Homo sapiens: one gene and its partners. The protein of the gene in region 1 interacts with the protein of each later gene in a pairwise test. Each region holds a gene or a part of one and is shown on either strand. Other genes may lie near its edges. The genes, in order: DBH, LPIN1 and OTUD7B.

Region 1 (3,747 bases):
GGCACCCTGGTTTCTCTCTCCTTTCCTGTTCATGTCCCACCCTGTTCCCAACTCTCCCCTTTCTGAGGCTCCGCAACTCTCCTGCCTGCATGAATGTGGGCAGCATTGGTCTGAGGCATTGTTCCCAGTCTTGAGGAGGCCTTGGGAGCCTCAGGCATCTTCTTAAGAAGCTCAGTGTCCCGCCCGCCAGGCCCGGGAATGCCCATGGCTAACAGAACCTGTGACCTGCTGGCAAGTGACAGCCCTGGTTCCTGGCTGCAGAGGAGGAACCAACTCCACTGTCGGGGCTCATCTCCACTGTCTCCAGGCAGAAATGGAGATAGAAGGTGTGAGTGAAGCCACAGCCCCAGGCAGAACCCTCAGATCCACAGGGACTGAGGCCCAGCATCCCCAGATCAGCTGGCAATGAATGCGGAGCTCTGCCGGGGAATGCCCTCTTCCCCTGTGGATTGGCCCGGCTTGGCTCCTTCATGCCTGGAGCCCAGTGCTTGTCTCTGCAGGACGCCTGGAGTGACCAGAAGGGGCAGATCCACCTGGATCCCCAGCAGGACTACCAGCTGCTGCAGGTGCAGAGGACCCCAGAAGGCCTGACCCTGCTTTTCAAGAGGCCCTTTGGCACCTGCGACCCCAAGGATTACCTCATTGAAGTAAGGGGTGGCCGCGAGTACCCAGGAGGGCGTGGGCTGCGTGTATCATGCTGCCATCCTGTGCCAATGTCATAGTACCTTTCCTGTCCCTGATAAGTCTGGGGCCTGGGCCTGGCCAGCTATGACAGAGAGAAAGCCAAGGAGGATGGCCAGAGGCAGTGGTGGGGCCAAAGCACTTAGGATGGTCCAGCTCTGCTATTGCCCCTGAGCCCTCAAAGACGCAGCTCTTTGCCAACACGTAGCTGACATGGTTTCTAGATGCGGGGCTTGTGCTGAAGCCTCTCCCATTGGACTAGACCTTGCTTCTGGATGTCTCTCTCCTCCTGGTCCTGTTAACCATCAGGTGGGATTCTGGAGCCCAGGCGACCTGGCTTTCCATCCCGGCCCTGTTGCCAGCTCGCTGTGAGGCTCGGGACAACTGCCCCCCTCCTCTGGACCTCACTTTGCCCATCTGTAAAATGGAGATGGGAACTAGATGATCTGTATGGCCTGACCAACTCTGGGAGTTCATGGGAGCCATAAAACATTGTAAAAGCCATAGGCTTCTTATGCTGCTCTAAGAGCCCCCCAACCTCTTAGGGAAAGCAACCCACCTTGCCCTTGAAGACAAAACTCTTTTAACTCTAGCACACCTGACAGCTTTTGTCTTGTGTAAGTAATCCTTTGGTGTGGCAGTGGCCTGGGCTGGCCGTTAGTGCCAGGTCTTAATCATGGGTGTAGCTGAGTGACCACACGGGAGGCCAGTGCCATCGAAAGATTGATTGCATTTCCGGAGAGAAGGGGCACCTGTGCCGTGCAGGGCCACCTGCAGAGCCCTGGGTTTGGTCAGGAGGCAGATGCAGGAGCTAGGGGAGAGCCCAGGCCTGAGGCTTTCTTGGGGTTTCCATGGGAAAGGCCAGGCAGGGCAGGGAAGTTGCTTCATTTGGACAATTCTGGTGGGCTCTGGGTGGCCGGGGTGGTCTCTAGTTGCCTGGTTCCTGGCCCTAGGGTGATTTAGGGCTGAGGCAATATTGGCCTGGTGTGTGACAGTCAGGTGGAGGAGGTGGCTAAGGATATGGGCTTGGGACGGGTTGGAGGGTTGGGAATATGATTCTCACACAAGCGTGAATGTTGGAGGGAAGGGCAGGTGTAAACAACTCTGGCCATCTGTTTGAGCCTGCAATCCATTAATAGATGCCAAATAGACAAATACGGAATCTAAGAAAACAGAACAGCTGGCTGTTTGCCAGATGAGGAAACTAAGGCCCGGAGACGGGGAGTGGATGTACCCAGGGGTTCGGGGTGTGCTGGGGCAGACCTGGTGCCAGAAGAGGTGTTCTTCCAGGAGGTTGTTGAGCCCTTACCCTGCTTCCCAGTGGACGAGGCAAGGGTGAGCAGAGAACCCTCTGGAAGCACCTCACAGGGGGAGGCCAATGCCTGTGTGTGCTCAGCCCAGTGGCCCCAGGCCAGGTATAGGGGCCTTTGCCTGGAGTTCTGGGCGTCCCCTGCACAGGGCGGCCCATCGGCTTTCCGCAAACTCAAAGAGCAAATTAGCCACCCACACGGGTCTGCACTGTGGAGTGCCCAGAAAGCTATGAAAGGCACTTTCCACACCCGATCCCCGTTTCCATTCATGACAGCATGTGAGGAAGCCAGCCCCACAGCTTGCCTCCTGAGTCTGCCTGTGGCCTCCAGCACCGCGTAGATCCATGGAGCTTTCTGTGGCTGCTTGGTCCCCTCCTGCCAAGCTGGTGGTGACTACATAATATAGCGTGGCTCCGCAGCTCAGCGTGACCATCAGCAAGCCCCAGGGTGTTTCCTTCCCTTCATAGAGGGCACTGAATCCTCAGGCTGGGCTGCTGAACTGACCAATGATCCCCCACACCCAGTCCCCAGTGACCTTGGGGTTGGTGGAGGGAACAAATGTTCCGGCCACACTGGCTCACGGCGGGCCCAGTAGTCACTGGTTGAATGGATGTTAAGTGAATGTAGGTGGAATGTGTTTAGAAGAGAAAAGTATTTGATGGCCGGTGCAAATAGGGGATCCTGGGGGTCGTCAGCCCGGGATTTGGCCCCAGCCAGGGCCATGCAAGCCTCAAGGGTCCCTTATTCACAGAGATGAGAGTGAGGTGTGTCACCTGGTAGGTGTGGGTGGGCAGGGATGTGGCATCCTCTCAGGAGCCCAACTCTGGGGGCTCTGAGAGGGCGACCAGCTGAACCCTGTCTCGGCTGCAGGACGGCACTGTCCACTTGGTCTACGGGATCCTGGAGGAGCCGTTCCGGTCACTGGAGGCCATCAACGGCTCGGGCCTGCAGATGGGGCTGCAGAGGGTGCAGCTCCTGAAGCCCAATATCCCCGAACCGGAGTTGCCCTCAGACGCGTGCACCATGGAGGTCCAAGCTCCCAATATCCAGATCCCCAGCCAGGAGACCACGTACTGGTGCTACATTAAGGAGCTTCCAAAGGGCTTCTCTCGGCACCACATTATCAAGGTACGTGCGGGTCCAGGGCCGAGGTCCTCGCCCAGCCCTGCCTTCCTCCCGGGCCTGGGTTGTCCCTGACCCTGGAGAGCTGTCCACAGTCCTGGTTGGACCAGGTGTCCTCTTATCACTGGAACCTCAGGCACCTGCCTGAGCAGGGGAGCAGCAAGTGGTCTTGGCTTCCCCATCACTCTGCTCACTCCCCTACCCTCAAAGGGCCTTGGAGCTCCCACTTCCCTGCCTGGACCAAAGTGACCAACATCTTGACTTCTGCATCTTTCCTTGGGACTGGAACTGCTGTCTGTCTGCCAGGCCACCTCCCCCTTCATGAAAAAGCAGCTCGAGTCAGAACTCACTTGCTCTCGAACACCCGTCCGGGGAAGACAGAATAGCAAAGGCGATAGCTGTCGAGTGTCCACTATGCCACTAGTCCCGGGGGAGGGGCGAGGTGATCCCTCCTTCATCATAAGAGCCCCTAGTTTCCAGCAGAGGAAGTGTGGCCCAGGGAGGTTGAGTGTCCAGGGTCACATAGCAAGAAGGGGCATGTCCTTGAAGGTGCACTCAGAGAGGTTATGTGAGTGTCCAGAGTCACACAGCAGGAAGAGGCATGGCCTTGAAGGTGCGCTTTGGGCCCGGGCTC
Region 2 (3,747 bases), on another chromosome or scaffold:
GTCCACCATCTGCCTCTGTCAGACTTTCCCGGGCATAGGCAGTTGGTTTACATACTGGCTGTGGCTGCTTTCACACCACCACAGCAGCGAGTGGTTGCGACAGACGTCGTAAAACCCGTAAAGCCCGAGATATCTGCCACTGGGCTCTTTACAGAAAATGTTTGCCGACCCCTGTTCGGAGCAAGCTTTGTCTAAAGGACTTTATTTCATTTAGTGACAGTGAGATAATTTATTGCTGCAAAGAACTTATAGCCAAATATGTTCTATTTTGTCTGGTGAAACAGAATGGCAAGAGCTTTTTAGATACTTTGAGGTTTGGGAACAGCACCGTTGAGGGTGAGAAGTTGGTTTTGATGGACTTATTCCATGATGATGCTGGAGAAAGAGTGGATTGCGGTCACACTTGTAGGTACTGAGGCCCCTCGCTGGAGGCCACAGCCTGCGCTTTTCCCATTGCAGTGATACCGAACACGTGACTGTAGACGCTTCAGTGCCACCAAAGCGTTGTCTCTTTGGAGAAGTCCAGTTGTGGAACTGGAAGAGCAAGGAGGTTGAAAGGCCAGGAGCCTTTCCCACATGGACGTGGGGGGGCCCACGTGCCTTCTTATAGGACTGCTCCCTAAAGGGCAGAAATGTGTGTCTGTTGGGAGCAGGGTGTCCCATTGCAGAAGCTCTCCTAATGTGATGTCAGGAGCCTCCTCTCCCCAGGCAGGCGAAAGAGAGCGTGCAGGCTGCCCCGTGGCAGCACGTCATTAGAAGGGCTGGGAGTCATGGGCACCAAGGGAGCAGGGACCACCCTCTGCCCCTTGGTGTGAGATGAGAGAGATGGCACTTGGTCTGGCTGCTCTATGCAGCTTGATCAAAGAGATTCAGGATCAGTTTAGCCCACAAGGTCCCTGTTTGTTGGATACAAGTTATGTATCATCATGAACTCACCTTGTATTGACAGGAAAGTTATATTCAATTGGAGTTGAACTCTAGGTAAATGAGACCAGAAGCATCAGTTTCCGAAGAATAGATAAGGTCTGGGAAAGAAGACGGCAAGGGAAACTGAAAGCTTTATTTCCTGCTTTGTCTGAAAAACCCTGCCGCCTTCCTCTAGAGGAAATGATGTGGGAAAATAAGCAATAATTAACCATGTTATTATGCGGCAATAAATAATTACAAGAATTGCTGCTGTAAATAATATTTCTCTAAGTTGTTTAGAATATGGTGAGGATCTTGTGGATAAGTTAATGACTTTTGGATGGTTACTTTGGCTGGGCAGAAGTAAGACCTTGTTTGGGTCTTCAGAGTAAAAATTCAGGAAACATGGAGGTGGTTACTGAGCGAGCCTTAACCAGTTGGTGAGTCCCTTGTGAAGTATTCCTGGAAGACATAAGATCTTAGAAAATTTCAACTTGTAGGCTCCTGCCCAACGTTATCGAGTTTATTTGTGGCATCCAGCATCTTTGGTAAAATTGGCACATCATATAATTTCCCTGTTTCCCAGGCCAGTGCAGATGATAAATATTTAAAATATGGACTCTAATGAGTGCCTGCCCGAGCCAACCAAGACCCTTTTGCAGCCCTCTGACAGCAGAGGAACTTGATTTGGAAACAGATTGCAGGAGATGCGAGTGCAGAGTGGGGTGGGGAAGGGTGGTCTTTTTGAGGTAAGAACAGACTATTTTTCCCTTTCTCTTTCCATCTCTTTCTTTTGTATTCTGGGCCACTTCTTTTTCTCCTCTCCCCCGCGGTGCACCAGGCGGCAGGGTGGGGCGGGCGACCCACGTGGAGCGCCTTCCATGGGAGGCGCTTCCCTGCCCCCTGGTGGCCGGAGGAGGGATTTGTCATGAGGCTCCGCTCAGAGCGAACGACAGCTGGGGGTGCATTTTCTGGGCTATTTGAGCCATGGAGCTGGGCCCAAAACATTTACAAAAGTTTCTTTTCCCACCTTAATTTTCGCTTTGTGTTTTCCTTAAGTCCTTCCGGTTCCCGACCTTCAACACCTAAAAGTGATTCAGAATTGGTCAGCAAGTCCACGGAAAGGACAGGGCAGAAGAACCCAGAAATGCTTTGGCTGTGGGGAGAGCTGCCGCAGGCTGCTAAGGTGAGAGTCTCTTCAATTCTGCCACGGACCGAAGATTTCTAACTCAGCTTAAATTACATGGAATTAGTATCATAGCATAGCCAAGAAACACAGCTACCAGGAGCCAGAGGTAAACCAAAATATATTAAGGGTTAGCCTTGAATGTTGGAATTACTTTCTTCCACGTTACCAACATTATAGAGAGGTCTCATTGCTTTTGTAGATTTTAAACCTATGGGATTCCTCTTAGGATTTACTTTTTTTTTTTTTTCTTGAGACAGAGTCTCACTCTGTCACCCGGGCTGGAGGGCAATGGCTCTATCTTGGCTCACTGCAACCTCTGCCTCCCAGGTTCAAGCGATTCTCCTGCTTCAGCCTCCCGAGTAGCTGGGATTACAGGCGCATGCCACCACGCCCCACTAATTTTTGTATTTTTAGTAGAGACGGGGTTTCACCGTGTTGGCCAGGCTGGTCTTGAACTGCTGACCTCAAGTGACCCGCCTGCCTCTGCCTCCCAAAGTGCTGGGATTATAAGCGTGAGCTGCCGTGCCCAGCCAGGATCTACATTTTCTATCACAGCTAAATGCAAATTAAATTAAAGAAATACAACTTACACACAATCTTGCTGTCTTGAAACTGTAAACAAAAATAGCTTCCAGCTCTTGAGTCTGCTAGGTCATTGATGAGTGGAGCAAAGCCACAGGGAGAGAGTTGTGGACTCTTGGCCCATTGAAAAAGAAGCTGAGTTGTAAGAGCTGGAATCCACATGTTCTTGTGTCCCTCACACAGAGAGACATCTGGGAGAGCCCTGGGAGAGGGAAAGGCTAATAGAACAGAAATGAAAGATTTCAGCCTAATAGATAAACAAAGTCAGAAAACCTTAAGGTTTTGATTCATCAAGTAGTAAGTATTTCTGGGCCCTCATTGTTGGTGGGACCCTGAATTTGACCCTATGGAGATCTCCAAAATAAATAGAGAAGCAGCTGAGGGTAGCGGAGAGAATGAGGGCCTGGGAGGCAGCAGGTTATTCTGGGTTTGAGTCCTCACTGCACCGCTTGCTAAAAAGGTGACCTTGGGCAAATGAGTAGACTTCCCTGAACCTCAGTGTCTTCATCTGTAAAACTGTGAGAAAATGACAGAATTGTTGTGAGGTTAGAAGGGCTAATGTAGGTATGTGAAGTATCTGGCACCTGTAGGCCCTCTGAATATTTGCATTCTTTCTCCTTGGCTGTGGTACATGCACGCTGAGCCCCAGTTTCCCTATCTTGGATATGCAGTGGGTTTACATGTAGGTACATAACTGGTTCAGCAAATATGTTTCTAAAAACATGAAATGAACACAATCTTTTCTTTCAAGAAATTTTATTTGGTATGCTAATGTATTATAAGCATCTTGAATTATGTTATTATATCACAAGCTTTAAAAAATATTGTAAGGTCCTTAGAAGATGCTATAGCCTCTTGCATCCCCAATAAATGTTTGTAATATGAATGAATGAGTGAGTGAGTGAGTGAATGACTATTGAAAACATCCCTTATAAAGAGTCAAGATGGGCAGCTTTTTGGAGAGTAGTCTGTTGAGGCCAAAGTTGTGGATCCATTTCCTCTCTAGGTTATATTTAGATTTCATAGAAAATGCTGATTTACCTGTCCACAGCTATGGTGCTGACCCAGCC
Region 3 (3,747 bases), on another chromosome or scaffold:
AAAAAAATAATTTATTTCTTAATAAAAAGCTATAAGGCCTAAAGCCCCATTTTACCATATTCACCCCTAGACCACCCCTCAAAATTTCCATCTTTTTTTATTTGAAAATAAAGCAAACGGAATTGGGATTGGCTAACTTATAAATAAAAACAAACATGATACAAGGTTTTTTGTTCATTTGTCCTTAGTTTTTAAAAACAAAAGTGTTAACTAGAATCTAACAACAGATCAAATCCAAACACAGCAGTCCAGTGGAGAATCAAAACTTTTCCGGCTTTATTCTCTGGGAAAACCCCTGGTCTGTTTTCATTCCTATTGGTCCAGGCCACCATTCTATGATATGAAGGCCTAAATTAGGAAAGCTAGGTGAGCTGTGCAAATTCAGGGTGTCTGAGCCACCTGTTGTTTGGTGTGTGATGGGGGTGGAGGCGCACACAGTGGTGTTCTCGCTAGTGTTCAAATCACAGAAACAGGGACGTAACTAGGGTGAGGTGAGCAAAGCACTCACCTTGGGCACAAAATTTAAGGAGTGCCAAAAAACCCAGTAACCAAGATAAATACTATTTTAATGCAACATTTTTAAAAAATCACAATTAATGTAAAAAGTCTATGATGGACAATGTATCAAAAATTTAAATAAGAAGGATTCATCCCCATACTTATTCAATTCAGCCTCACTTCCCTCCTCCTAATCTCAGTCCTGTCAGATCCTGTAAGATTTCGCTATTTTATCCAACATAAATTTTTTGCATTAATTTTTTTAAATACTGCATTTTTTATAGTATCTTGATTAATGAGTTTTATAGTAACCCTTAAATTTTGCAACTTAGGGGAGTGCTCATCTCATACCAGGTTCCAGACCTGCCTAGACATATACACATCCCTTCCTTTGGAATCTCACTGCTTCCTTAACACAAATCTATTTTCAAAGAAAACCCTAAGAATTAATAGCCATAGGAAATTATTAAATCAGATTTGGAAAATAGGTGACTTCTGAGTTTGTTGAGGAGAAAATAACCTTTATAAACCGTGAGCATTTCCAACAAGGACAATCTTGACTGGCTACCGAGGAGGAAAACACACACACATATGCACGCACGCACATGCATGCACGCTCAAGTGCTTTAGATCAAATGTGGGGATTACGTTCCAAGGGATGGGTTATGAGTACATACCTCAAAAGAGAAATCCAAACACAGAAAAACAGCCCCAGTTAATACTCTGGACACATAAGTACACTTATTCCCCTTCTTCACATGCACCCGGGAGTGTATACAATTGCATAGTTGACTTTTTTTCCCGGAAAAAAATATAAAGAAAAAGGAAAATTGGCCCAGGATAGGTCTTCCGGTTTAAAGCTCTTAGAAATGGCTCTGGCCAGAGCATAGGCTGTTCAGACTTGTGCTTTGTGCAAAATGCGAAGGAGCTCCCCCTACTGTGTCCGCATCCCCACTCCCAGCCCCTAGAGAACAGGGAAGGGTCAGGGAAAGGGAGAAACCTAAAGACAGATCAGCTCATTGGGAGTCATCTGTGCTCTGTGGTTATAGTTCACTAAAATATATTTCTCTAACTACCTTTTTATAAATTGCCCCTATATGTTTCAACATCAGTCCTAATATCAAAAATATCTCTTCTTAGAAAGTATTTTTAATTATTTTAATAAACTAACCACAGATTAAGGTCAGCTATGGCTTAACAAAAGAAGCCGGGATGTTAAGTTCATTCTCCAAAAGTAGAGCAAAGGGAGAAAGAACCACTTAAGTAGGAGGAAAAAAAATCATTTTTTAAATGTTTTTGCTTGCTGGGGTCTTTTTATTTCTTTTCCTTAAAAAAAAAAGTCAATAAAATAAGTTGCTTTCTACAGAAACGCAGCAGCCACAGAGGCCTGTAATGCTCTACTTAGGTTTTTGGTTTTGTTTGAAACAGCCTCTGGCTAAAATGTCTGTCCTCCCACCCCTCCCAAGGTGCACTCAAACCCCAACGTATGGTTATTGCTGTGGTTAAAAAATAGATCAGCTCTGCCCCAATTCACCTGGAGAAAATGCAACACACATGACGGCTGTTCTCACCACACTCTTCCCTTTAAACAAATACAATTAAAGACTTAGATGAGGAAAAGACAGGGGGTAATCAGCAATCTCTTCTCAAACTGTAACAGATGACATATGACTGCTTGGAAGGAAATAAACCTTAAGAGGAAAAGGATTTCCCTCTTAAGTTCCTCCCTTTCCCATCTAAACAAACGGATTTAAACTACCCCCACCTCCTAACAGGCACCCATGAGGACACATTACTGCCTTGTCTTTCCAGATCCTTCAAGGGGAAGAATTTATCCAACCTTAATTTCTAGCTTAATTCAAATCAATAGCAAATGTGTCCAATTTCCCACTTCCCCTCCACACTTCTCACTCCACCATGTGCTTTTTCCCAACCTAAAGAACTTTGGTTTTATTGACTGAGAACCTCCTTTGCCCATTCCTCCCCAAGACTTCTGCCCACCTCCCACCCCCACACACCAAACCTTCCCCTGCTACTTTCTCTTAGGTCCCTGGATGGGACCCAGGAGGTTATAAGACAGAATCGCCATCTTTTCCCCTTGTACCTCAAACCTCATCAAGTCAAGCTCTGCAGAGGAATAGTACAGCCCCTGAGGTGCCATCCAGCCCCGACCTGCTCTTGCCAGCCTGGCAGCACTCCTGTGTGCACACACTTAAAAGTTTCCAGCCAGGCTCCCACAAACATTACTGCATTTTCCCCCTCAACATGGGGACTGTGTTCTTGATGAGCCAATTAGTTGAGCTTAACTTTGTTTAGCCTCCTTGCCCTTCAGTGTTCCACCCGTTCAGAACCTGTGCACCAGGAGCTCCCCATCCGGTTCCCGCTCCCTCCTCCTCAGTTCTTCCCTGTAACAACAGGAACAGAAGTTGTTTGTCTCAGGGTGTCCATAGAAGCTGCAGTTCGGTTGTTTGCATTTGGTCTGAGTTGGGGGAAGGCCCCGGAGACCTCCAGCCCATCCATCTGGCTCAGGGGGCTCTCTGTAGCCATTGCTATAGGAATCAGCCACTCGGTAGGGGGGTGGTAACAAGGCACCCCTGTGAAGTCCATCCTTAGAGTGGCTGCCTGGCTCCAGAGAAGGGATGCTGTCCTGGTGGGGGTAGGGTCGCCCAGGAGGGCACTGTCTGGGGAAGGTGGCATATGGTGGTAGGCCCCCGACACATGGACCCCCTGCCAACTGCCTCCGGGGTTCCTGGCAGTGGACTCCGCCCCCAGACGGCCGAGGGATAGTAAAGTCCCCAGGGTAGCCAGTGGAAAATGCCATTGCCCTGGACTCTGCTGGGGGACCGGTCGGCTGCTCTTCCCTAGCATCTGGCTCTGGCTTTTTGGCTGGAGGAGGGCCACCCCCTATTCCTCCATTCATGATCTTCCTCTCTGCCTCCTTCTGCTTCTGTTCTGCCAGGAATCTCTCCTCAGCATCAGAAAGGTAGCGCTGGATCATTTCCTCCTGATACTGGTGACGGTGACCCATCTTCAGGGTTCCAACAAAAATAAACTTCCCCTCCCCTTGCATGGCAGTCCTCAGAATGCTCAGGCTCTGCATCACCTCCTGGCTATACTTGCTCCCTCCGTTACCAACAGACTCAGCTGGGGGCTTCTCAGACACAGGCCCATCCCCAGCTGCCTCCTCCTTGCCACCCTTCCAGCTCTTCAGTGAGTTTTTCTTCTTCTTCTCCAGTGTCTCAGTGCCGC

What was found.
Region 2: the proteins of DBH (region 1) and LPIN1 interact in binary tests that used the Homo sapiens proteins (3 or more experiments, as listed by UniProt).
Region 3: the proteins of DBH (region 1) and OTUD7B interact in binary tests that used the Homo sapiens proteins (3 or more experiments, as listed by UniProt).

The regions. Positions count from the first base shown.
Region 1 is NC_000009.12:133,639,346-133,643,092, forward strand, and holds part of DBH (dopamine beta-hydroxylase precursor), read left to right. Parts: intron 1-500; coding exon 501-647; intron 648-2,861; coding exon 2,862-3,119; intron 3,120-3,747. UniProt on the Homo sapiens protein: Catalyzes the hydroxylation of dopamine to noradrenaline (also known as norepinephrine), and is thus vital for regulation of these neurotransmitters.
Region 2 is NC_000002.12:11,777,554-11,781,300, forward strand, and holds part of LPIN1 (phosphatidate phosphatase LPIN1), read left to right. Parts: intron 1-1,965; coding exon 1,966-2,092; intron 2,093-3,747. UniProt on the Homo sapiens protein: Acts as a magnesium-dependent phosphatidate phosphatase enzyme which catalyzes the conversion of phosphatidic acid to diacylglycerol during triglyceride, phosphatidylcholine and phosphatidylethanolamine biosynthesis and therefore controls the metabolism of fatty acids at different levels.
Region 3 is NC_000001.11:149,941,015-149,944,761, forward strand, and holds part of OTUD7B (OTU domain-containing protein 7B), read right to left. Parts: coding exon 2,843-3,747; 3' UTR 1-2,842. UniProt on the Homo sapiens protein: Negative regulator of the non-canonical NF-kappa-B pathway that acts by mediating deubiquitination of TRAF3, an inhibitor of the NF-kappa-B pathway, thereby acting as a negative regulator of B-cell responses.